3 separate regions of the Homo sapiens genome follow, and regions 1 and 2 are each linked to region 3. Evidence: fine-mapped expression QTL. A gene starts in region 3. Each other region holds a variant in brackets. All regions are shown on one strand. Distances are between the middles of the regions.

What was found. PIP is the estimated chance that this variant, and not a neighbour inherited with it, causes the effect.
Region 1: its variant is fine-mapped to the expression of H2AJ in whole blood (TOPMed, PIP 0.96).
Region 2: its variant is fine-mapped to the expression of H2AJ in cerebellar hemisphere (GTEx, PIP 0.92).

The regions. Positions count from the first base shown.
Region 1 is chr12:14,736,422-14,740,667 of GRCh38, reverse strand. The region is part of intron 2 of LOC105369669; the gene reads left to right. Among named protein-coding and RNA genes, the nearest start is that of H4C16, 33 kb to the left of the region's middle. The variant G/A (reference allele first, on the strand shown) is at 1,862.
Region 2 is chr12:14,746,133-14,750,378 of GRCh38, reverse strand. All of the region lies in intron 2 of LOC105369669, which reads left to right. Among named protein-coding and RNA genes, the nearest start is that of H4C16, 23 kb to the left of the region's middle. The variant G/A (reference allele first, on the strand shown) is at 1,994.
Region 3 is chr12:14,772,546-14,776,791 of GRCh38, reverse strand. H2AJ (H2A.J histone) reads right to left here and starts at 2,387. Exons shown (of 1, transcript NM_177925.5): 1 at 1,768-2,387. The coding sequence starts at 2,321. The coding sequence ends at 1,932. RefSeq lists enhancers at 1,277-1,426, 1,133-2,049, 1,937-2,096, 2,107-2,436, 2,627-2,836 and 1 more.

The sequences.
Region 1 (4,246 bases), 36 kb after region 3:
TTAGCCGAGTGTGGTGGCACATGCCTGTAATTCCAGCTACTCGGGAGGCTGAGGCACAAGAATTGCTTGAACCCCAGAGGCGGAGGTTGCAGTGAGCCAAGACTGCACTACTGCACTCCAGCCTGGGTGACAGAGTGAGATTGTCACAAAAACAAAAACAAAAATTTGAGGCATTATACATTCTTTTATTGCACTAAGCTTTTGAAATCTAGTGTGTATTTTACACATACATCTCAATCAGGAGACTTTTCAATTTACTGGATTTCATAAAGTTTACAGTTGAAAATGTTTCACATATCCAAGTTATTTCAAACATACTTTAGAATGTTTCAATAGTTGAATCAAGTACAAAAAAAATTTTTTTTCTTTACTATGGACATTTATATTGACAAAACTTGTTTATCATTTTAAAGAATTGATCTAACTTTGAAGTAAAAACATATAAGATTCAAAACTAGTTCCATCCAGGTTAAGTAAATTCACTAACTGTTGTGTTAAATTGGTATTATTAACATTGATTTCAAAGAAGTATTGCATAAATTGAAAATCAACTCGAAATTTACCAATATCAAAACAGGATTCTTCAAATTTTTCTTGCAGCTTTTATGGCCAATTTGCATAATGCTGTGATTGATTCCCAAGCTTTTTTTGATAAAAGCTTCTTTATATTTGTTTCGCAAGGTGTCAGAGCCCCGGCAATGGAAGGTGGTAGGCTCGGAGGTAGAAAGAAGAATTTACCCACAGCAGTATAGGTTTGAAAGGGAAAGTTTTATTAGATAGAAAGAACACTGCAGCAGAGTGCAGTGGGGCACTTCAGCAAGAGAGGACTGAGCACACCACGATGTATTTTTCCTTAGGGGCATTTATGGACCTTGAAGAGGGAGCTTAAGGGTAATTTGGGCCATATTACCCACCTAGGCCATAATAAATAATTACATTTGTAGACATTTTGGTGCCTTGATGTCAGCAAGGGTTGCACAACGAGTTTCGACATGTGTGCATTCCAGAGATGTATAGAAATTTTTGTTACTTATAAATTTTTGGGAAAGAAGTCAGGTACTCAATGCCAGCTTTAGATAATAGGGACATGTAATTACTTCTAAATTCCTCAGAGAAGGAGTTTTGCCTCTGGATGGTCTGCTTAATGGCCACCACCAGGTGGTCTTTGCTCTCCTCATTTTCCCCTAATAAATATCTTGGTCAAATCTTTGACCCTTTGTATACCCTCATGCTCCTGTCTACCTGCTGCCTATTAGGGTCTCCAGAAAGGGAAAACAGCACGGTGAAGGGGAGCATCAAATCTGTCTGGCTACTTCTGCATGAAGGAAATGAAGGGTCATGAAAAACTTGTCCATGGGCCAGGGTGGAAGGAATGGTGGGGGACCAGATTCCATCAAGAGGCCCCATGTAAATGGAAGTTGCTGTTGCAGGCTGGTATTGGGCTTGCAAGGTCATCTATAGGTGAAATCATTATAATCTAGAAGATATAAACTTAATGAGAGTGGTAAAAAGGCAGGGACCAAATAGTAAAAGAAGAATGATGAGGAATAAAGGTCCAAGGAATGGGAGAAGCCAAGTGATTTTTGGAAACCAACCAGTAAAGGTTTTGGCCCAGTTTTGATTACTTTGAGAAAGTATATGCTAGCTCACTTTGGCTATCACTTATTTTTGCATTTCATGTCCAATATAATCTCACGGGAAAACATCCACCCAGTCCAGTCTCCGTGATCCTTTGATGTCTTCTGACAGAGCAAGTGATGGCTCTCTAGTGAGTGACTTTGATAAAAGCCTGTCTAGTCAAACCCCAGAAGAAACTGAACATTGGTGGATGATGGATTTGGGTTCCAAATGGACTATGAAT[G/A]TTGTGTCAGTCACCAACTGAAGAGAATGTATTCATGGACAAATAAAGACACTTGCGATTTTAATTGGGTACTCACTTGCTCAGAGTGGCAAGACAAATTCCAGGTAAGGGTTGAAATTTTAAGTGTTAAAAATATCAAGTTAACAACTCATTAAGCTTTCATATCATTTTATGCCCATTCAGCAGTAGTTCTTATTTCCACTTATAGTTTGAAGAATTAACTGCAGACAGCGTTCTTAACATTTGTATAATCTAGCTATATGGAAATACACTATTCTCAAGTGAATATTTAATATATTCATCAAGTTGGTCTTTCAGCTTGCTAAAATGAAACTCATTTCTTGCAGGTAAAATGGGCATTTAATAACATTTACCAGTAATTTGCTTACAACAATTAATTCAGTCAAAATCACCCAAGCAGTTGATACATATTATTATATACTACATCTTTTTCTAGAATTAAAAAATTAATGTGTAGTGCCAGCCCTAGATGTAAGTTACATATATCAACTCTATCCAATTTTGTCAGCCATAAAACTTACCTTTTTCACATACTTCTAACTCTAACAATGTGAGAAATGTAGATCATTGCAATTATACCCACAAGGCAGATGGCTACATGCAGAATGGATAGCAGAATCTAGCTACTTACGCTAGCCACATGGTAGACGTTTTTTCCTTTGTTTTTGCAAAATTGCAATATAAGTTGCATATCGTTAGAGTGAAAGATGTAAAGAACCCATAGAAGCAGTGATGAAGGACATTTATATTTTCAACTTACAAAAGACCTTAAAATTGCCTATGTGGAGCAGAACTGAGGAGGGCAAACATCGTAAAAATTTTGTTCTATTTGATTTGGCACATATACTCACAGTACTTTGTTAACTTCTTAAAAATATCTATTTGGAAAAACAGTTTATAAATATGAGAATAATGTAATGATTACCCAGAAGCCTACAAAATTTCCTTTTTATTGTTATCTGTAAACTGTTTGCAAGGTATTTTAATTTCCTGTTGGTCATTAATTATTGCTACAACTGCATAGTTAATGTAGTTAATATTTCAATATTATCTCTAATGTTGTCTCACAGGAAACATATAACTCAGTCTATCACCTTCAATCAATCCAGATCACTTGAGAAAGCCATTGTATTAGAAAAAATTACATATATTCAAAAACCAATGAGAGGCAGATCCCTGGTATATGGTGGATTTGGGCTTTTCAGAAAAATTTGCTTCAGTCACCAACCAAAGAAATTGTTGCCACGAATAAACAAATGAAGCTATAATTCTAGTTGGAGATTTATTTGAAAATGGTACCACATTAAATCCCAGGTACGAATCCAAGTTTTGAGTTCTAGAAGGATCATGGCATGCTTATCCTTTTTGTTTTCACCAACCCTGAGAGGTAGTCTACATTCCAAGATTAGAACATAATGAAGTTAGAAGGGCTGCATTCTATGAGGCAGGGAGAATTAGACATGGAATTACAGAGCTTTTCATTGCAATTTCCATGACTGTTATTTATGTGAACTTACACAAATCTAAGGATCACTCTGAGCCACAGTTTCTTTATCCTATTCTGAAATCTCTTTAAAGGACTTGAGTCCAAGCTCTCTCCCACACTGCAAGACCCCACTGCAATGGCTCCTATAGCTGCTGCCATGGCCTCCTCCAATCAAGTCAGCCTTACTATCTTAAAAAAAGTAAATAAGGGCAGCTAAACGCCATGGCAAATGTATACCTATGTAACAAACCTGCACGTTCTGCACATGTATCCCAGAACTTAAAGTAAAATTTAAAAAAAAGAAAAAATAAATAAATAATAACATCTCTTTAAAAATAACTGTCTTTCCATTTTTGTGCCATCACCAATTTAGTTACTGGGACTACACCAGCAGACACAATAGGTAAAAATCCCTGCTGTCATGGACATAACATTCAACTGGGAATAAACAGAAAAAAATCAGATATGTGTGTGTGTGTGTGTGTGTGTGTGTGTGCGCGTGCGTGCGCGCGCGCACGCGCATGTGCCAAATAGCTCTAAATACAGTACAGTCAGACAGGGTGGGGGAAGGGGTTGCAATTTTTTTTTTTTTTTGAGACAGAGTTTCACTCTTGTTGCCCAGCCTGGAGTGCAATGGCGCAATCTCGGCTCACTGCAACCTCTGCCCTCTGGGTTCAAGTAATTATCCTGCCGCAGCCTTCCGCGTAGCTGGGATTACAGGCATGCGCCACCATGCCCGGCTAACTTTGTATTTTTAGTAGAGACAGGGTTTCACCATGTTGGTCAGGCTGGTCTGGAACTCCTGACCTCAGGTGATCCACCTGTCTCAGCCTCCCAAAGTACTGGGATTACAGGTGTGAGCCACCGCACCTGGCAGG
Region 2 (4,246 bases), 26 kb after region 3:
GCATTTACCAGTATTTTTCCTGACATCTGATTCACAGTTGTTTCTTGCATCCTGTTCCCTCTCCTGGACTCACTTGACATCTTTCTGAACCAGGGCCCTTTAGTATTTCTTTTAGCAAGAATGTGTGGGTTGCAAACTTTATCTTTGTATGTTTGAAAATGTCTATATTTGGTCTTTATTTTTTAATGTTAGTTTAGCTATTTATGAAATTCTAGATTGAGGGAAATTTTCTCTTAGCACTTTGGAACTATTTAATTATGGCAACTGTTATCGTAGCATGAAAAAGTAGCATGCTTTCCATCAGACTCTCAGTCTTTGAGGTGTTTTGCCTCTAGTACACTTAAAGATATGTGGGTTTGGCCAGGCGCGGTGGCTCACGCTTGTAATCCAGCACTTTGGGAGGCCGAGGCTGGTGGATCACGAGGTCAGGAGTGCAAAACCAGCCTGGCCAACATGGTGAAACTCCATCTCTACTAAAAATACAAAAAAATTAGCCAGGCATGGTGGCAGGTGCCTGTAATCCCAGCTACTTGGGAGGTGAGGCAGAGAATTGCTTGAACCCGGGAGGCAGGTTGCAGTGAGCCGAGATCACACCACTGCACTCCAGCCTGGGCAACAGAGTGAGACTCTATCTCAAAAAAAAAAAAAAAAAAAGATATGTGGGTTTCGATTTGGGAAAATTCGCGGCCACTTTCTTTTTAAATATTGCTTGTTTTTAATTTTCTTCATTTTTTACTTCTGGAACTCATAAAATACTAACATAACAAAATAATTATTAATAGTATAAACAGTATGCATAAGTATACTTATAGTTAATATTTTCTGAGTGCTTACTCTTTTTAAAGGGTGATTCACAAAAATTCTATGAAACAGGTGCTGTGTTTCCACCTGTTTTACGGATGAGAAAGCTAAGAACATTGGCTGATAAGTAAAAATAGCTAGCATCATACTGTCAGTAAACAATGGATTCAAGATTTAAATTATTATAATGTAGCTCCAGGGTCCGCACTATTAACCCCTTACCAAAGTACCTGGGTCAATCGCTCATGACCCAGCCACTTGGTTTTGCATCTTCTCTCTCTATGGCATTCTGGGTCGGGGCTCCATATACTCTTTAATTTTACTGTGTCTCTGATTACTTAAAGATTGTGTCCACATGACTGACTGGACTTCTCAGCTCCGTTCCAGGCTTAAATTGATAGCTTATATTTAATGCTCTTTGGGCTCTTGTGCACCTAGCAAAGGTTGGCATGGCCCTGGTCCTGGTATGGAGGCTGCCAGTCTTCTCTCTTCCCACTCTGAGCAGCAGCTTGATACAGGCCACACTTCCCAGCAGGGATTATACTTTGTTTTAAGCCATTGCTTCGGAGGTGTGAGGGCCCCCATTTAAGTTCCGTTCCTAGTTTCTCCCCAGATGGTGGGCATTAATGGATCATGTCACCTGCCCACCCACCACACCGCACCCTAAAATTTGAGTTTCTGGATCTTCAGTCTGTTTCTAGCAGGAAGGCTCATTCTCTCCTCACTCATTATTTATCCTAAAATGAGTTTATTCAAATTAATGTATTAATTTACCACCTAACTAAAGATGATGCTCGAATTTATGTTTCTTACCTAAACCTCTTTTGAAAGCATCAGACCCGTGTTTTCAATTACCAACATTTTCTGGCTATTTGGTTTTTAGCTCTTTGTAAATTGTTGTTTATCTTTACGTTTATTTTTTATTTTTTGTTAGGAGTCTTGGAGATTAGTGGGAATATGTGAACTCAACACACTCTCACAAGAAATTCTCCATTTAATCTTAGTGCTTCTTTCTTTTTTTTTTTTTTTTTTTGAGACGAGTCTCACTGTGTCACCCAGGCTGGAGTGCAGTGGCGCAGTCTCAGCTCACTGCAAGCTCCACCTCCCGGGTTCACACCATTCTGCCTCAGCCTCCCGAGTAGCTGAGACTGCCACCATGCCTGGCTAACTTTTTGTATTTTTAGTAGAGATG[G/A]GGTTTCACCGTGTTAGCCAGGATGGTCTCGATCTCCTGACCTCATGATCCACCTGCCTCGGCCTCCCAAAGTGCTAGGATTACAGGCGTGAGCCACCGCACCTGGCCTCTTTTTATAATTTAATCTTGATTTTTTTAATCAAAATAAAACATGTATTTAGTCTTAAAAATCCAATTGTTTTACAAAGTGTATAACGAATGACAAAAATGCTGCACCTATCCCTACACCCAGTTTCTGCTCTCCAGATATCAACCAGCTTTTTCTTCTGGTAATTATCACTATATTTCTAAATAACATGTAACAACTGCTACATCTAAACTTTTTAGTTTTGGGTTTCATCTATAAACTTCCTACCACGAAGGAGGAAAAATTATCTCTCTTACATATCCCTCCCTTCTACCTACTCATGAACTTTTCCAACCCCCATCCGTCAAGTCTATTTCAGTTTTTGGTTAAATCAGTATTCAAGTATTTATATTATTATAACTACATGAATATTATTCATAACTGAGCCATATATTTTATGATTAAATTTCTTGTAAAAATTTTTGTTTTCCCTGGAGTTAAAAATTATCGATCATGGTTGATCCTTTAATTCCCCCTACAGAAGTGAAAAATGTTTAATTTTTTTCTGAAGCCTTCTGATTCAGTCTGTATGGGTTGGTCTCTAGGTCTTTCAGAACTTGCATGTCTGAAAGAATTTTTATTCTCCTCTTACAATTGACTGATACTTTGAGTATAAAACATCATTTTTCCTTTGAATTTGAAAACATTTTTCTATTGTCTGCTAGTGTGTTAGTCCATATGCATCACTATAAAGCAATACTTGAGACTGCGTAATTTATAAAGAAAAGACGTTTCATTGCCTCATGGTTTCGCAGACTGTACAGGAAGCATAGTGTTGGTATCTGCTTCTGGTGAGGCCCTCAAGAAGCTTTCAATCATGGCAGAAGGCAAAGGGAAGCAAGCACATCACAGGGGGAGAGAGAGAGCAAGAGAGACAGGGGAAGTGCCACACCCTTTTAAACAACCAGATCTTACCTGAATTGATTACTGCAGGGACAGCACCAAACTATTCATGAGGGATCCACCCACACGACCCAAACATCTCCCACCAGGCCCCACCTCCAACATTGGGGATTACAGTTCAACATGAGATTTAGAGGGGATAAAGGTCTAAACCATATCAGCTAGTTTCCATCAAGCTATTGAGAAATTTAAAGACATTCTGATTTCTAATCCCATGTATTTGACTTTTTACGTCTAAAAGCTTTTAGAATTGTATCTTTCTAGCTGCGCTTTGAAATGCTTCATTGTTTGGTGTAGGTCTTCATTTGTTGTGCAGGGTACTTAGTAGGCCTGTTATTTCTTATTATTTATTTGATAATTTTCTCTGTTTCCTTTCTTCCCTCTTAATAGAAATCTATTATTTATTATTATATTTTATTCATTCTCTGCATTTTTTGCTGTACTATTGGAAGTTTCTTAAGCTTTATCTTTCATCCTAATGGAATTTTTTAATGGCTTTTTATTTTTTTGTGAGATGTTGTTTTGCTCTTTGAATATTGCTTTTTAAATAAACACATAGTTTTTCTTGTTTCAGGGTTGCAATATTATCTCATATCTTTGGGGCTGCTTAGATTTCTTTTTTCAATGCTTCATTGTTGCGGAAAGTCAGGGACCCTGAACGGAGGGACCGGCTGAAGCCATGGCAGAAGAACGTGGATTGTGAAGATTTCATGGACATTTATTAGTTCCCCAAATTAATACTTTTATAATTTCTTACGCCTGTCTTTACTGCAATCTCTAAACATAAATTGTGAAGATTTCATGGACACTTATCACTTCCCCAATCAATACCCTTGTGATTTCCTATGCCTGTCTTTACTTTAATCTCTTAATCCTGTCATCTCGTAAACTGAGGAGGATGTATGTCGCCTCAGGACCCTGTGATGATTGCATTAACTGCACAAATTTTAGAGCATGTGTGTTTGAACAATATGAAATCTGGGCACCTTGAAAAAAGAACAGGATAACAGCAATGTTCAGGGAACAAGAGAGATAACCTTAAACTCTGACTACTGGTGAGCCGGGAGGAACACAGCCATATTTCTCTTCTTTCAAAAGCAAATGGGAGAAATATCATCGCTGAATTCTTTTTCTCAGCAAGGAACATCCCTGAGAAAGAGAATGCACCCCTGAGGGTCGGCCTCTAAAATGGCCCCCTTGGGTGTGGCCGTCTTCTATGGTCA
Region 3 (4,246 bases):
AAATGTCAAAACCATATATGCATTTTGTTCCACTGACCCCAAGTGGTAACTGTGAGTAGTAGTTCTAACAATGAGGCATTTTTTAAAAAGTCCTATTAATGTTTACCTATAATTTAACCTATAAGGATAAACCCATACCCCCATTGAACATGGTACTTTTTTCCATTTATTGTCTAATATGTGGCACACAGTAAATGAACAATCTCAATCCTTAAAACAGGTGTTATGACTTTTACATATGACAAAACCACAGAGTAAATAGCAGAACATCTCGAACCTGCCCAATAATTTGCCTCCTAACAGAGGTGTGTACGGCCTGACCTTTGTACACCTCAAAAATGGCAACATGGGAGAAGTAATTCCATCATTCATCCACACACAGCAGAGAGGTACAAGTACTAACAGAAGCTGATCTCTCATATTAACGTATGTATTTGTTCCTTGTCCCGTCTTCAGGAACCAATAAAAATAAAGTGAGCTCCGAGAGAGTGGAAATCTGGTTGGCCTCATTCACAGCTCTACTCCTATCACTTTGTACAGAGCCTGGCATAGACAGCTGTTCAATAAATACTGGGGACAAAATAAAGTCCATGTGGGAAAATGGGCCAGCCGCTACCAAGGATGAAGACATACAATATATACATATATTTTTGGGGAAGACTTCAATTCCGACTCACAGGAAAGATGAATCCAAAGATGTGAAATCTGTACTGGGATCTTTTTTGTGGGGTCTGTGAGCCAGGATGAAATTTGCTGAGGATGAAATAAATAGGAGTGTCAATTAAGGGCAGAAGATGATTACTAGTGTTAACTTTTCAATGTGGATTCCTGGTCTGAAATGTGTTTCCCCCTGCACTTACATATTTGGTCCTATCTTTCCTTACATGTTTATTAAAGCAATATTGTGCCATTAGGCAATGCAACTCCCAAAGACATTACTGGAATGAGGTCATTGCTTCAGGCTAGTGGGAGAATATAAGAGAGTTCAAACAGGTTATTTGTTGGGTAAGAACCCCTAAAAGCAAGAGGTTTTTGTTTTGTTTGAAAGCAAAGTCAAACCGATTCTCAAAGTGAATATGATATGATGAAGACAGGATCATTATGAAGCTAGAAACTTGACAACATCACTTTAAAAGCTCAAGCATATGTAACCCACGACTAAAGGCGCTGCAATGTTATGCAATATGACTGTCAGGGGAACGAATTTCCAACCTCATGACTCACTTATTGAACGTTTCCTTCATTAAAAAAAAAATATGAACATAAAAGTGCTATATAAAGATATCTGATATCCAAAGCATGAAAGCACAGCAGCTACTAGGCTAGGAAGAATCTCAAGTTGACATCGTGCCATCAGAGCCACCCTTCCAAGACGGAAAGTTACTCCACTTTTTGAAAAATATGGCCGCAGACACTTCCTGCCCCGAGCTCAGCTCGATCCGACGGTATCTTCCCAGAACTTGGTCCTGAGTGCTCACAAACTGGCAGGAGAGCGAAGGCTCTGTGAAAGGGAAGTAAAAATAATTCCGAAGGAGGCCTCACCGCACCGACTCTGCCTCCCCTTTGCCCTACTGACAGCGAGGTGGCTTCCACCCTGCCCACCTCCAGGCCACCCTCCCCTGACGCCTCGAGGGTGACCTGCGGACTAAAGCCGTCCAGAGTGGCTCAAGCCCACCCACCAGTGCCTGCTCCAGGGGTTTCCCGGTCGCCCCCCTCCCCTGGGGCCATCCGACATGTCCCCGCGACTACACAGCTCTCTCGACCAAACGATTTTCACCAACTTTATTGGCTCCCGCCGGGACCCTCGCCGCCCACCTCCCCGCTAGATGTCACCGGCCCTCCATGACATCCAGCACATTCAAAAGCATTGCGGGACGACCATGAAAAGGGCCTTTGCTGGGGGAGCCAGCTCCCTGAGGGCGGCGTCAGGGTCATTTGCTCTTCGTCTTCTGACTCTCCGTCTTCTTGGGCAGCAGCACGGCCTGGATGTTGGGCAGGACGCCGCCCTGAGCGATGGTCACTTTGCCCAGCAGCTTGTTTAACTCCTCGTCGTTGCGGATGGCGAGCTGCAGGTGGCGGGGAATTATCCTGGTCTTCTTGTTGTCACGCGCGGCGTTGCCAGCCAGCTCCAGGATCTCCGCCGTAAGGTACTCCAACACCGCCGCCAGGTACACCGGCGCCCCGGCGCCCACTCGCTCCGCGTAGTTCCCTTTGCGCAGCAGTCTGTGCACTCGGCCCACCGGGAACTGCAGGCCCGCGCGGGAGGAGCGGGATTTGGCCTTTGCTCGCACTTTGCCGCCCTGTTTCCCGCGACCGGACATGATCACCTCTCGCCTACAACTCCAGAGACGGAGACAAACCGCTCTCGGCGTCCGGTACCGGAATGCAACGTACCGCACCCGAACTGCCTCTACAAACTCTTTACGGCCGCGCGGCAGCCCCTTTCCATTGGCTCTGGTGACCAATGACAGGCAGGCTCCGCTCCCAACTAGCGCTCTGGAAGAGAGACCGCCTCCTCCAGCTCTCTCCAATCAATAGAGCAATCTCCGAATCCTCATTTACATAGCCGCTCACATAAATAACGAGGCCAGCCGGCTCAGTCTTTGGGGACCCAGATGAATTTAGCGGTTACGGGTTTTCCACGACCACGCTCGCTTCCAAGCACATAAACTCGTAGGAAATAAGAAAACATGGTTGGAAACAGAAAACAATCCAGAAGAAGAGCTACAGGGGTTGTCCGTAGACGTTGCTATGCTAAGTGGATGTTCTCATATAATACACCGTACTACTCAGGTAGGTTTCTGTCTCCGCAGCCCGTGCTGCTTAGGCGAAACAACAGCCTGTCCGCGGAATTCTGCCTGCCCAGGACAGGGTCCGTGGACTGTTTCTTATACAAGCGCCTTGCCTCCAGCTAGCTACCCAACAGTGTAGAGACCACCCTGGTCTCCCCGCAGGGTCCTGCGGCTCACAGCCAGCCAATCGTTCACTTTTGAGTCTGAAGCTAGAGTGATGACCAGACGTGAATGCTTCCTGTGCTGACGGGAGGAACAAGCTCGCCTAGCCAAAATATCTTTTGTCTTTGAGGCTATGGGCCTGCAAAGAGCCACTAGGTTTTATTGGAGAGGCCAAAGTCTTGGCCTTGGCTTGCTCCCCGCAAGCCAGGGCGCCACAGATCAGCGGATCGGGTCCTCTGCGAAGACGTGGAGGTCCCCCGGGTCTCTTTGTAAATGAGTCCAGAGACTAAAGTCAGAATGGCAGCTTATTCTTATATACCTGAATTGTGGACCCATGCTTTTTGAAACAAAAAGAGTGTTTCAAGTGTTTTGTTTTAATTAAAAATTACTTTCTCCTAATTCATCGAGGTCATTTCATTTTTACCTGAACATTTTCAGTAACACAGTTAACACCGATACGTGATGTAATGTTGAACGCTTGCTTTTTAAAATAAACATTTTATGTGGATTCATTTACATTTAAAGTAAAGCAAATTTACCTTCTCACTATCCGAATAAAGATTTGACTTCATTGAAATAACATTTTCAAATATTTATGTATATGTCATTACTGCCTAGAACAATGATGAACCCATACTGGGGACTCAATAAATGTCTTCAGAGCTATTGTCATGGTTTAGGCGGTCTTTCCGGAGCCAGTCTGCCTCAGCCTAAATCCTGGCTTTACCACTGAGCAGTGACCTTTGATAAGTTATTTGACTCCTCTACCTGTATCAAAGTGTTTTGAAAATTAAATACGTTAGTAAGCATCCAATAACTCTTAGATATACCAAATAAATGGGCATACAAATCTCTGATGCAGTTTTTAACGAGATGTTCCTGGAATGAGTTCTGTAAACTAGCTTAAATTTTTGCCTGTATCTTGGGGAATTTTCAAGAGTTTTTAAAAGTATTACTATTTTAGACACGATTTTTTTTCTTTTATTCCAATAAGCAAGAGATTTCTAATTTGAAAATGTTCTAGTCTTGATTTCTTAGAAAGCTTAACTATAAGTAAGTCAACCGATTTTACCATTACAATAATTTTTTTTTTTTTTTTTTGAGACGGAGTCTCGCTCTGTCGCCCAGGCTGGAGTGCAGTGGCGCGATCTCGGCTCACTGCAAGCTCCGTCTCCCGGGTTCACGCCATTCTCCTGCCTCAGCCTCCCGAGTAGCTGGGACTACAGGCGCCCGCCACCACGCCCGGCTAATTTTTATGTATTTTTAGTAGAGATGGGGTTTCACCATGTTAG